4 separate regions of the Homo sapiens genome follow, and all the other regions are reported to be linked to region 2. The links are microRNA targets in miRTarBase. Many come from high-throughput screens and were not tested one by one. Region 2 holds a microRNA gene; each other region holds the end of a gene's coding sequence.

Region 1 (3,000 bases), not on the chromosome of region 2:
AAGTGCTACAAATTTCACATGATTCAACATTGTCTTGTGTTTTATTCCTAAAACCCTTCCCCCATCTCTAAATCTAGTGTAATCTACATCCTAAAGACTGGGCCGTTCTCAGCTTTGGCAGTAGGACTTTATATCTTTGCATAAGTGACATTATGCCCACCATCTCCACCCAACTCCTTTATTATTTATATTTTCTTGCAGAGATGGGGTCTCACCATATTGCCCAGGCTAGTCTCAAACTCCTGGCAGTCCCACCACTTTGGCTTCCCAAAGTGCGGACGTTATAGGTGTGAGCCACCATGCCCAGCACTCTTTTTTATTAGAATTTTTGCACAGTACCTGGCCACAGGTAATTTCTCGTGCTTAGGTGCATCTTGATCCTCACAGTACCCTGGGATCCTTATTTTCCTCCTAAGCAGGATTGGCAGTGGGGGGCACTTTGCCATCCCCTCGAGAAGTGACTCTTACAGAACGGCTCCTCCTGGATGGCCCACCACCTCATTCACCAGAGACTCCTCAATTTCCCCCCACAACTGGAGCTGTACTGTACACTGTTAAGAGAAACCAGGTTGGGCCTGAGGTTCGCTCCTGCCCCAAGGCATCCCCCAGACTTCAGAAAGAGAGGGAGGGCCAAAAGGCAGTGAGTGAGTCAGAGGCTTTGATGCTGGTCTGGGATGCATCAGAAACTGAGAAATTGCCTGGTACCGTGGAACCCCCTGCTTCCTTCCTGAGTCCTGTTTCCTCAAAGACCAGAGATGCAGGGAGAAGACATGTGTCCGGGAAACCAGACACTCAAGAGAGATGGCTGCCCTCAAGCAGAGCTAGGGTGAAGACAAGAGACAGGACGTGCCCTGTCCATGAATCTCCATCAGGAATTGACACCTCAGAGACTTCTCCCAAAGCCCCTAGAGGGGGTTTGGCTAAAGACAGTGGAACACAGGGCAAGGGTCCAGAGGGGGAACAGCAGCCAAAGGCCACAGAAGCTACGGTGTGTGCCAATAACAGCAAGGTCAGCTCCACTGGGGAAAAGGTTGTCCTGTGGACAAGGTAGGTAAGGGTGGATGATGTGTGTTTGGAAAAGAGCATAGACCACATCCATGTGGCTCCCTAGGGTTAATCATGATACCTGGGTTACAGGGAAGCTGACCGTGTGATCCTCACCATGTGCCAGGAGCAAGGGGCACAGCCACAGACCTTCAGCATCATCTCCCAGCAGCTGGGAAATAAGACCCCTGCTGAGGTAGGTGCGGGTTGGGGTGAAGACCTGGCAAAAAGAGGTCAAGGTGGCCAACTAAGAGACAGAAAGGCCAAAGAAGGAGTTTTCATATCCAAGATAAGTGGTTTTTGTAAAGGTTTGATCTAAGGAAAGGCTTGACTCATCAGGGTGGTAGTGGTTCTAGGAGAAGAGAAAGGACACTGCATTTTTAGGTGGAAGCCCGTTTCCATTCTAGCTTTTTTTTTTTTTTTGAGCCAGAGTCTTGCTCTGTCGCCCAGGCTGGAGTGCAGTGGCATGATCGTGGCTCACTGCAACCTCCACGTCCCAGGTTCAAGCAATTCTCCTGCCTCAGCCTCTCGAGTGGCTGGGATTACAGGTGCCCACCACCCAGCCAATTTTTCTATTTTTAGTAGAGATAGGGCTTCACCATGTTGGCCAGGCTGGTCTCGAACTCCTGACCTCAAGTGATCTACCTGCCTCGGCCTCCCAAAGTGCTGGGATTACAGGTGTGAGCCACTGTGCCCGGCCATTCTAGTTTTGTTTTTAGGAGTCGTGTGACTTTGGGCAAAACATTTAGCCTCTTGAGTTTCCTTATCTATAGTGACATAGCTCTCTCAACCTTGCTGTGTGGAATAAACAAAAGATTTTGCAAATCAATATATAGTGCTTCATAAATGTTAACATGTTACTAAGGATCAGTGAATACAGCCCTCCTCCTTTCTTAGGTTTCCCACCATTTTCGAGAACTCATGCAGCTCTTCCACACTGCCTGTGAAGCCAGCTCTGAGGATGAGGATGATGCAACCAGTACCAGCAATGCAGACCAGCTGTCTGACCATGGGGACCTTCTGTCTGAAGAGGAGCTGGATGAATGAGACTCTGGGAATCATCTACACAGGACCAAACCCAACAGGCGCCCTGGCACCGGGGAGGCGGGTAGTTGTACTCTGCTTGTACAGTCCTTGAGCCCAGTTTACAGATCTGGAGAGCAGGAGGCCAGGACAAGGACAAAGGCTGGAGGATGGAGTAGGACCCAGGGGCTCTGCCATCCTAGGCATCATTCAAGGTCTTTTATGAAGACTTTACAGATGTCCTCTGTAAGTAGCATCGAGAGTGGAGTTCAGCTCCTTTCTCTACTTTTTTTTGGTCTGATGGCACATATTTATTGTTCTGTGGTCTAATCACAGTGTTTCTAAATGTAAAAAGTGCATATGTTGGTGTAGCTAGTCCCGCGACATTGAGCTCCTCTGCATGAAGACACTGGGCTCCTGCATCCAGCTGTTTTTATTGCAAACTAGCTCCTTTCTCCCACACTGGGAACTTTAGTCCACGAGGCTGTCACCACCCTGGTAGCACTGGGCCAGGCTTTGTAGCTCCTGCAGCAGCTCTGCTACGTCATCGTGCTCCACTCCAGCATCCATGAAGCTGGCCCAGCGCCGCAAGTCGAGTTTGGTGAGGTCTCTGGCCAAGGCTTCCAGGGTCTGGTGCAGGGACGAAGAGGAACACAGTGCCCCAAACACTGGGATGCTCTCCACTGCTGTGGAGGGAGAGGAAACAGAGACCTGTAGATGGATGATTATTCTGCCCTGGGACTCTGCCAAACTGATAAGGAAGTCCAACCTTAGTAGACTTGATTGTAAACTCAACAAATTTGGTGTATTGTCCCCTTAGTACACCAGTACTCCAGAGGAAGAATGCTTTTCTTGGGAGCCATAGGGTGAATAAAGGAATGTTTAACTGTGGACTTTTTCAGCACTTTTAATCCAGGAATGGAGATAGTAAAA
Region 2 (3,197 bases):
GAAGCTTCTCGCTAGCAAACCCACATTCAGCGCCCTGTAGCTGAACACAGCACAAAAAGCCCTAGAGATCAAAAGCATTAGTATGGGCAGTTGAGCGGGAGGTGAATATTTAACGCTTTTGTTCATCAATAACTCGTTGGCTTTGACCTGTCTGAACAAGTCGAGCAATAAGGTGAAATGCAGGTCACAGCGTCTAACAAATATGAAAATGTGTATATTCACCCCGGTCTCCAGCCGGCTCAGCAGGCTCCCCCAATTTGTCTGGATAGAGCCTAGGCCCAGTGTCCCAGGAAGGTGGATACTTGGGAGTCTTTGGCATTCAGGGAAATTGGGGGGACTCTCCTGGGATAAACAGATTCTGCAGCCTCATAGCCCTTGTTAGAACTGGCGCCCCCAAAATCCCTACGAAACAGGTAAAGTGGTGGAAGCAAAGGATGGGGGGATGAGCAAAGTGCCAGGCTTGGAGGGGGAGTATCCCTGCCCCACCCCACCAGGCCCAGGCCCAGGCTTGAAACTAAATTTTGAATTATGTGGGAGGTAGGAAGGGCAATCAAGACAGTTAAAAAAAAATCTAACACCTTCAGCCTACAGTTAGGCACCCAAAAGCCCCACTCGAGCCAGGGCATCCCTGTGCCCCTGAAATCCATCGAGGCTCTGAGTGAGTCTGCGCTCTCCATGCCCTGAACTGAGGGACAAGCACTGCACAGTGCCGAGGCGCTGGGGCGGGTGAAATTTGTGAACTTTTGTACTCTTGTGTGCTGCTGTCGGCAAAGCAAAAATAATGAAAGTTTGTGATATGTTTGTAAATGATTTCGAATGACCCCTCGCCCTGCCCTTCACCATTAGCGCGCCGGCCTCAGCCCAAGGCGGCTCGGTGCCTGTGAGCAGCGCCTGCCTCGGGGTCTGCAGCAGCAGCGGAACGGAGAGGCCAGCCCGGATCAGGGCCCATGAAGGTAAATGCGCGACTTCTTGGAGAAGTAGCTTTGGCAGACAACCTGGCTTGGTCGGGCAGTAGGAAAAGGAGTAGACACAGGATATTCCCCTCTCGCTTCTTTTTCTTCTGCCGCTGAGGGCATTTGTTCCTTTCTGGAAAATACCACTTGGTAAGGAGGAGGGTTATTTGGATCCTGGTGGGGGAGGGTGGTTAATAAAGCCGCCATCCTTGGGATGGATTATTTTTCTTTCTTTCTTTCTTTTTTTCTTTCTTAAGAAGAATATTCTGGTTGTTCGCCTGCTTGGTAACCCTGACCCTGGCAGAAGAATGAGGGAACTCATTGCTTCAAATTGTCGCCAAGCCCATTAGGCTACCTGAACTGTCTCAGAAAGTGCGGGTGGCTGCGTCGAACGGTGGTGGCTCAGAGGAAGAGATTGGGGCCGGCAGCGACCTAGGTACCTCACTCTGGGTGGGACCCAGAGGTTGTAACGTTGTCTATATATACCCTGTAGAACCGAATTTGTGTGGTATCCGTATAGTCACAGATTCGATTCTAGGGGAATATATGGTCGATGCAAAAACTTCACGTTTCTTCGGAATAGCCAGAGACCAAAGTGCGACATGGAGACTAGAAGCAGCCGGCGCTGGTCAGCCGCCTCGTTCTGTTTTATTACCTTGGACTCCAGGAGGATCAGCTGCGCCTGGTGACATAGAGCAGCTTTTCCTCTCCAGAAGCTCCTCACCTTTAAACAGAGTATCCTCTGGGTGCTGAAAAGAAAGAAAGACAGAAAGAGAGAAAGAGAGAGAGAGAGAGAAAGAGAGAATGCAAGCCTAATTGGTTGCATGGATGCAGGGCCAAAGGGCTAGGTTTTGGGGTACTAGGGAGTGAGGTACAAGGCCAGCTTGCCCAGTCCCAGCTCTGCCCTCCAGGAACATGAGGTGCAAAGGTACCCAAATGGGGGCTTGCTTGTATTTGGGGCCTGTGGGAAGAAAGCAAGCTTCAAAGAAGCCCAGTGGGGAGCTCTAGGGTGCATTTTGACAAGGTGGAGGTGCCCTTGCCACCATCCCAGCCCACCCCCAGCTACATGGGCAAGGGCAGCGAGGGCCCCCTGCTATTTTGGCAGGGCCCAGCTTTGGCTGGGAACCCCCGGGCCTGGGCACTGGTAGAAAGCATGGCGGTTACTCATTGCCTAATTTGATTCAAGCTGGCCAGATTCTGGTAACTTTTGGGTGACCCTGATGAAGACAAAGCCAGGACGGCGGCCTTTGTATGGCAGAATCCCTGCTCCCGCCGGCTGCAGGCAGGGCGGGCAGGCAGGAACCCTCCTCGCCTGGGGCACTCTGCCCAACTCAGAGGCGAGTTCACCCACCCACCTTTCATTGCTCTGTACCCCAATAGGAGGATTCATTCTCCCTTGAGCTGTGCCTACTTGGTGTCGGGGGGCGGGGGTTGCATTCAGCTGGGGGTGAGTGGAAGGGCCACGGAAGGTTGGCAAAATCAGTGGCAGACAAAAGCTGGGATTACCTGAGGGGAATGGGGTGCTGGGGACTGGAACTACATTAATATCTGGCAGGGGCTCTCAAATGTGCCATAGCAAGCTACTTGATTACACGTATGTTATTTAGTTAAATTTGTGAAAATTATGAGATGCTCACCAACCCGGTGATAAACTTGCTCCCTCGCCATTGGCTGGCCTGGTCACATGGCTGCCCAACTTTATTCAGTTGACAGCAAGTAGGAGGGCCCTATGGAAGGAGAAAAAAAGACAACACGAGAAAAATTAGTATTTTCTACCTTCTGAAATTAATGGTCATGAGTTCGTATATGGTGAACTCCAAGTATGTGGACCCCAAGTTCCCTCCGTGCGAGGAGTATTTGCAGGGCGGCTACCTAGGCGAGCAGGGCGCCGACTACTACGGCGGCGGCGCGCAGGGCGCAGACTTCCAGCCCCCGGGGCTCTACCCACGGCCCGACTTCGGTGAGCAGCCTTTCGGAGGCAGCGGCCCCGGGCCTGGCTCGGCGCTGCCTGCGCGGGGTCACGGACAAGAGCCAGGCGGCCCCGGCGGTCACTACGCCGCTCCAGGAGAGCCTTGCCCAGCTCCCCCGGCGCCTCCGCCGGCGCCCCTGCCTGGCGCCCGGGCCTACAGTCAGTCCGACCCCAAGCAGCCGCCCTCCGGGACGGCACTCAAGCAGCCGGCCGTGGTCTACCCCTGGATGAAGAAGGTGCACGTGAATTCGGGTAAGGCTAGGGTCCAGTAACCT
Region 3 (3,231 bases), not on the chromosome of region 2:
CGCCCTTTATGGTAGGTGCCCTCCTGTCCTGCAGGGTCGGACCGATACCTGGAGAGCCGCGATGCCTCTCGACTGAGTGGCCGGGACCCCTCCTCATGGACAGTCGAGGATGTGATGCAGTTTGTCCGGGAAGCTGATCCTCAGCTTGGACCCCACGCTGACCTGTTTCGCAAACACGTAGGTGCTGCTGCCTGACCTCTCAGTAGGAACCTGTGTGGAGAGCCTCACCTGGTGGGGACAATACGAGATGTTTGGGGAGGAGGGATGCTTAGAGACAAAGGCTGAGGAGAACAGGTAGGCTTCAGCATCACAGCAGGTGAACTGGACTCCATGTGGCGGGCACTTCCCAGGATGGCCTATAATCAGAACCTGGGGTGGTCAGACCAACCAGGACTCTGATGGTGCCTCCCTTCCACTTCTGCCCACCTCCCCACCCCCCAGGAGATCGATGGCAAGGCCCTGCTGCTGCTGCGCAGTGACATGATGATGAAGTACATGGGCCTGAAGCTGGGGCCTGCACTCAAGCTCTCCTACCACATTGACCGGCTGAAGCAGGGCAAGTTCTGAACCAGGAGAGGCAGCCTAGACAACCAAGTGGCAGCAGGTGGGGGCATTCTTCTAGGAATGAGGGGCATCAGCCCACCCCAGGCACCTCAGTGGGGTTCCGGGCCACCTCAGGACTCCAAGAGGCTGTGTGGAGCCACCACTCCTAGCCACAGCTGCCATGATAAGTCCTTCCATGAAGGACTGAGGAGGGAGAGTGGGGGTCCAGGGCTGGTGCTGCTCTTCCCTCAGCTCTGCCGGGGCTCTAAGGTCCCTCTATTTATTTCTCAACCCTGGCTGGCCTCTCACCAGGAGTTTAGGCTGAATGCCTTCCACGTGATGGAGGAAAAGGCCAACTCTGTCCTGGTCTTGCTGTGGCACCCCATCGCCCCACAGCTCGTACCTTCTCACCAGATTCCCCTGAATCCAAACTCGTGGTGCAAACCTCTACCTTTTTTACAAAAAGATCTTATTGTTAATTTATTGTTTCTGGCACTTGGGCAAACCCTGTAGTTAATACTCCTCCCACACTAGACACTGGGTTTCAGGAGGAGGGAGACTGCCCTGCTTTGGTCCCAGAGAGGCCCTCTGCAGATAGGCGTGGCCCCTCTTCAGAGGACACTACCCTAGGGCACTTTCTCTTTGAGGTGGAGAGACCCATAAAGCCTTGACCACATCACTCCATATGGGGAGGAGAAGGATCCCTGTCACCTTCTCCTCTCTTCACGGGGCCCTTTTGCAGCCCTAGGCCTCATCTGTGGGAAGGGAGTCCCTGGCTTATACTGCCCCCACCACAGCTCCTTGCCCTGGCCAGAACTGCTGTCGAAGAAAATCAGGCCGGAAGGCCAAGAAGGCGCTAAGGGGGATGGGAGGGCAGGTTTTCCAGGCTGGAGTCGGTTCCACCCACTCGCCTGTCCACAGGCTTCCTTGTAAGCAAGTCAGCAGCACAGCTACTCACGCTGCCATCTGGACTTATTTTATGTCAATCTGTTTATAAATAAAAACCAATATAGATACCAGTGTCTTTTTAATCAGTTAACAGCCAAATCACTACGCATTCATTGGACCAGTCATTCCCCTTCTCTTGGTCTTAGTTTTCTCATACATAAAACGAGGCCGAGCACGCTGGCTCATGCCTGTAATCCCAGCACTTTGGGACGCCAAGGTGGGAGGATCTCTTGAGCTCAGGAGTTTGAGACCAGCCTGGGCAACATGGTGAAACCCCAGCTCTACAAAAAAAAAATACAAAAATTAGCCTGCTGTGGTGGCGCACACCTGTAGTCCCAGCTGCTTGGGGAGCTGAGGTGAGGGGATGGCTTGAGCCTAGGAGATCGAGGCTGCAGTGAGCCGTGTTCGCACCACTGTACTCCAGCCTAGGTGACAATTTGAGACCCTGTCTCAAATAAATAAAATGGAGAGCTTGGAAAAAATGATTCCTAAGCGTCCTTCTAATTCCAGCAGTCCCTAAAGAACAGGTGGTCTTCCGAATGTCCACCAGAGCCCCAGCATCACACAGGCCCCTTGGAAAGTCAGTATGTGAATCCAGTCTCCACCCTCAAAGGGCTTTGCTCTGGTGCAGCTAGACAGTAGTAAGCACAGCAGCTATGCAAAGCCAGAGCAGGAGGGAGCAATCTTACATCAGCAACTCCTAGGAGCCTCAGTGGCTGGGCATATCCTCACCCATATAGGGTGGGGAAAGATGCAGGCCAGCACAGCCAGGTCAGGCCTGCACTGTACCCCTTGTGCTGACCAGGGGCCAGGCACACAACTCCAGGGCCACACGTCGTGTTTATAATTGGAGTATAGGGTTTGCAGGAGGAAGAGAAGGCATAGGGGAGCAGCAGGTCAGTGCAGTATAACCTGATAATAACCACCACCAACACTTATATCACTGTGTGCCACATGAGCTGCTTACATGAATTAGAACTATCTCACTTACTCTTCACAACAAACCCATTTTATGGATAAGGAAACTTAAGCTCAGGTCACACAGGCAGGAAGTGCCAAAGCAGACATTTGACTGCAAGGCTGAGGTTCTAGCCAGCCCACCTATGTGCCAGGAAGCTTTGGGTGGGTCATTTCCTTTCTTTGGGCCCATCTGGCTATGGGGTATTTGCATGAGGAGACTTGTGAAGGCCCTTCAAGCTTTCACCAGTGACAAGTTCCAATATCATAACTTACTTAGAATATATTTTCTACTTGGCCACTGTGAGGTTCTAACCATGGTCACTGTGAAACAGTCAGGGTCAAGGCTGCCAAACAAGTTGAGGCCCTCATTTTCTACCAACTCCTTGACACTGGGGTTTTTTTTTTTTTTTTGACAGTGTCTCTGTCGCCCAGGCTGGAGTGCAGTGGCACGATCTCGGCTCCCTGCAACCTCCGCCTCCCGAGTTCAAGTGATTCTCATGCCTCAGCCTCCCAAGTAGCTGCGACTACAGGCACACGCCACCATGCCTGGCTAATTTTTTGTAGTTTTAGTAGAGTTTCACCATCTTGGCCAGGCTGGTCTCGAACTCCTGACCTCAAGTGATCCGCCTGCCTTGGCCTCGCAAAGTGCTGGGATTACAGGCCTGAGCCACCGCACCCGGCCAACACTGGGATCTTGTAGACTGTGCTGTTCATTCAGGGTATTCCCAATGAGCACCTTGCTGAACCCTAACAACAAACTTCTAGATGTGACCCTCAAGA
Region 4 (3,231 bases), not on the chromosome of region 2:
GGGGCAGTGGATCCTGCGGGAGTCTCCCGGGGCGTGGGGAGTAAGGCCCCGGGGGTGGGGGGCCGGGTGGGCCGGGCGTGACGCGCGGTCAAAGTGCAATGATTTTTCAGTTCGGTTGGCTAAACAGGGTCAGAGCTGAGAGCGAAGCAGAAGGGGCTCCCTGTCCGGCCCACGTGCCCTTTCCCTCGACGACAGTCGAGGGCTCGGGCTCTGTGGGACTGTGGGAGCTAGGGTCTGCGGGGCGCCTGCCCGGGCGAGGTCGGAAGCTGCAGGCCAGCTGGGCCCGGGCCGGAGCGTGCCCGGCGGGGCTGCCCGGGCGGGCAGGGGGTGGGGGCTGCTCCTTTCCCAAGTGGTGTTGTGAGGGGCAATGAGGGCAACAGGAGATGTGGGGACGTGTTAGGAGAGAAAAAAAAAAAAACAAAAATATATATGGGGGAAATTAACTTTTTTTTTTCATTGAACCAAGTGCAATGCATCAGAGAGTTTTCCTATCTTTGTATGTTAAGAGATTAAGAAAAAAAAATTCTATTTTTGTTGTAATGTCCTCGCGGCTCTGGGGACGCTAAAAGAACCGGGCCTGCCCCGCCCTGCGCGGGGATAACGAAAGCTGAGTGTTTTTCCCTTTTTTTTGTTCGTTTTTAGTTTTTTTTTTTTTAAGTCGTTTTCCTGCGTTGACGAGGATGATCTGGGGTTTTTATTTGTTTCGTCGTTCGTTCTGTTTCGGTGGGAGGGCTGAAGGAAACGTTCACATTTTAGAGTTTAAAAAAAACACCTCGACATTTAAAAAATCAACCAACACAAGATCAAAAAGGAAAAGGACGAGAGAAAAATTATTTTTAAGATAATTAAACATAAAACCCTGGTGCTTCTTACATTATAAAGTACGTTTTAAAGAACCCACAAACTATTATACATAAGTTTATGAATCAATTAAATATCCTGCACTTGTTAGGAATACGCATATCCCTTCTTTGTTGAGTTTAACGGAACGGGACAGCGGCGTGCCCCCGGCGGCTGGACTGCTCCGGCCGCGGGTCTCCCCGGGCGCCCCTCCCTGGGGCCCAGCACCCCTCCTCGCCCCATCCCCGTCCGGGTACGGGGGCGCGGCAGGGGTCCCCGGCCCCTCCCCCGCAGAGGTCAATGCCAACGAACAAACGTCCCCTCCCTCCCTCCCTCTCCGCCCCGAGCGCCCTTCTTTGAGCCAGACGCCAACTTGACCCTCACCAGCATTATCAGGAGCGCGCTCAGCAAGTTGGTAGTTTCCTCCCCCCTTTCCCGGCGCCCCTCCCGCCCCCATTCAACATCTCTCATCCTATCCCCGACCCCCTCCGGGGAACACCGGGAAGGCTCGACGCTCCAGGACAGGACCAGCCACGCTGACAGGTCGATTTGCCCAGGCCCGCGCCCGCACGCACGCACGCACACGGCCCCGCACACAGCCCCGCCCCACCCCGCAACCAGCCCTGTCGACTGCCTTATACACCCGCCCCCGCGCTGGCCGGCCGACCTAGTGCCTTGTTCTCACCCCCGTGCTGGCGGAGCGGACGCCGCGCTCTGGGTCCCAGAGGGGCCGGGTGGCTCAGACGACCCACCACTCCCCCACCCTGACCGTGCTGAACAGACCCCCCCACACGAGAGAAAATAAAGGAGCAATAAAGTCACGAGAACTTTCGTCCCCCAATCGAGAGCCCGAGGGGCACCCCAGCCCCGCCTCTGCTCCCCCCCACCCCACCCACCCTCGGGGCGCCCCCCTCCCCCCGCAAGCCAGCCTGGGCCAGCCCCGCTTCGGCCCCTCCCGGGAGATCCGTGCGCCCGACCAGCACCAGCATCGCGGACCGCAAAGGCCGCCCGTCCCGTCAAACAAGTTTCTTCTTAGGCTAAGAAACGCAGTATATACGAGTATCTCTATATATAGTACTAATGGATTTGGTGTGCTTCCCCCTTAGCGTCCCCCTCCCTCTGCTCCTCCTCCTTCAGCCTGGTCTCCCCCTCTTCTCTGCCCTCCACCCCCGTCTCTGCACTGAGATACATAAGAAACAAGGGTAGTTTACTGTCTGTTTTGTTTTCTGGGTTTTCAGTGTCCTAGCGGAATGCAAGTAGGCAGCCAGCCCGTCTGTTCCCTCTCCGCCCCGCCCCGCCCCGCCCCCGTCACTGCGCTTCTGTTATACCATCTTTGCCTGACTCTCTCCGGCTTCTCCATTGAATGGCTAATGTGTATGTGAAATAAAGAAATAAAGAAAAACAAACGCGAGAGCGCCTGACCCTTCGCTAACGCGACCGTGCGGGACTGGGTCGGGGTCGGTAGGGTGCGTCCCCGACTTGGATTCTGCGCCTCTGTCCAAGCGCCGGGAGCGCAGCAGACGCCGTCGACGAGCGTCTGCCCCTGGGTCTCCCGGAGGGGCCGACGGTGAGAAAAGCGAAGCCTCCCCAGCCCCTCCTGGCCTCCCCCCGCGACCCCAGCCCGGAAAAAATGAGGCACCACTTGGGTCCTATGACTGCTCTGCCATGTTGCTTTGCCGACCTCGCCCCTGGGAAGGGGACCGGGCAAGGCCACTTCCAGAGGGTTGTGGGTGATTTTTTTAAGGGTCTGCGGGTCCCTTGGGGGTCGATGATCACCCTTCCGGACCCCCGAGACCTTGCCCCTGACGTCTTCACTGGTCCTTCTTCGGGGGAGTTCGCTCCCGAACATGCGCAGCACGTCCACTGCCCTTTCCTTGACGGCCCTGGGCCGAGTCCCTGGTGCCCTCCGGCTCAGAGGTGCTGCCGCGTGCGGTCACCGCACCTCTGGGCTCAAAGCGGTTTGCTCCATCTTGATGGGCCGGGCCGCTCCACCGGGGCTGCCGTCGGGGTCGGCCGGGGGCGCGGGCTGCGAGCGCGCTGCCGCCTCGGCCCTGCGTCCGGATCCCCGGCGGGCGCCGTCGTCTGGGACCCGGTGCACCGGCCGTTTGCGAGGCCCGGGAGGGGTGGGGCCTGCGGCCAGAGCTGCGGCTTGGTCGCGCAGCAGCCGCACCAGGAAGCCGATGTACTTCATGGCTAGGCGGAGCACCTCGTTCTTGCTCAGCTTCCGGTCGGGCGGGTGCGTCGGCAGCAGCTTCCTCAGCTCGGCGAAGGCGCCGTTAACGTTCTGCTGCCGCCAGCGCTCCCGGCTGTTGGTGAACACGCGCCGGGCCACCTTCTGGGGCTGGTGCCCTGTGGACAAGGAGGGCCGGGTTGGTGCCATGGCCCAAAGGG

The links. Region 2 holds the annotated microRNA hsa-miR-10b-5p (UACCCUGUAGAACCGAAUUUGUG, at 1,437-1,459, shown strand). A microRNA usually pairs through its seed, bases 2 to 8, with sites in the 3' UTR of a target mRNA and lowers its output. Matches are read on the target gene's strand: a 7mer-m8 pairs with bases 2 to 8, a 7mer-A1 pairs with bases 2 to 7 and ends in A, and an 8mer does both.
Region 1: miRTarBase lists MSTO1 as a target of hsa-miR-10b-5p. The part of its 3' UTR that is shown has no 7-base or 8-base seed match.
Region 3: miRTarBase lists SCMH1 as a target of hsa-miR-10b-5p. The part of its 3' UTR that is shown has no 7-base or 8-base seed match.
Region 4: miRTarBase lists LYL1 as a target of hsa-miR-10b-5p. The part of its 3' UTR that is shown has no 7-base or 8-base seed match.

Annotation. Positions count from the first base shown.
Region 1 is chr1:155,613,812-155,616,811 of GRCh38, reverse strand. MSTO1 (misato mitochondrial distribution and morphology regulator 1) reads right to left here. Exons shown (of 14, transcript NM_018116.4): 14 at 1,861-2,753. The coding sequence ends at 2,539. It also overlaps the pseudogene LOC100419798. Among named protein-coding and RNA genes, the nearest start is that of MSTO1, 5.1 kb to the right of the region's middle.
Region 2 is chr2:176,148,893-176,152,089 of GRCh38, forward strand. MIR10B (microRNA 10b) reads left to right here and starts at 1,411; the gene lies at 1,411-1,520. HOXD4 (homeobox D4) reads left to right here and starts at 2,658. Exons shown (of 2, transcript NM_014621.3): 1 at 2,658-3,174. The coding sequence starts at 2,742. RefSeq lists an enhancer at 2,377-3,110.
Region 3 is chr1:41,025,530-41,028,760 of GRCh38, reverse strand. SCMH1 (Scm polycomb group protein homolog 1) reads left to right here. Exons shown (of 16, transcript NM_001394311.1): 15 at 35-177; 16 at 442-1,559. The coding sequence ends at 567. It overlaps SLFNL1-AS1 (SLFNL1 antisense RNA 1), which reads right to left. Exons shown (of 4, transcript NR_037868.1): 2 at 49-228. Among named protein-coding and RNA genes, the nearest start is that of SLFNL1, 5.4 kb to the right of the region's middle. RefSeq lists an enhancer at 978-1,896.
Region 4 is chr19:13,096,546-13,099,776 of GRCh38, forward strand. It overlaps LYL1 (LYL1 basic helix-loop-helix family member), which reads right to left. Exons shown (of 4, transcript NM_005583.5): 4 at 2,488-3,189. The coding sequence ends at 2,774. It overlaps NFIX (nuclear factor I X), which reads left to right. Exons shown (of 11, transcript NM_001365902.3): 11 at 1-2,251. Among named protein-coding and RNA genes, the nearest start is that of LYL1, 4.7 kb to the right of the region's middle. RefSeq lists enhancers at 1-237, 1,483-1,622, 2,830-3,231.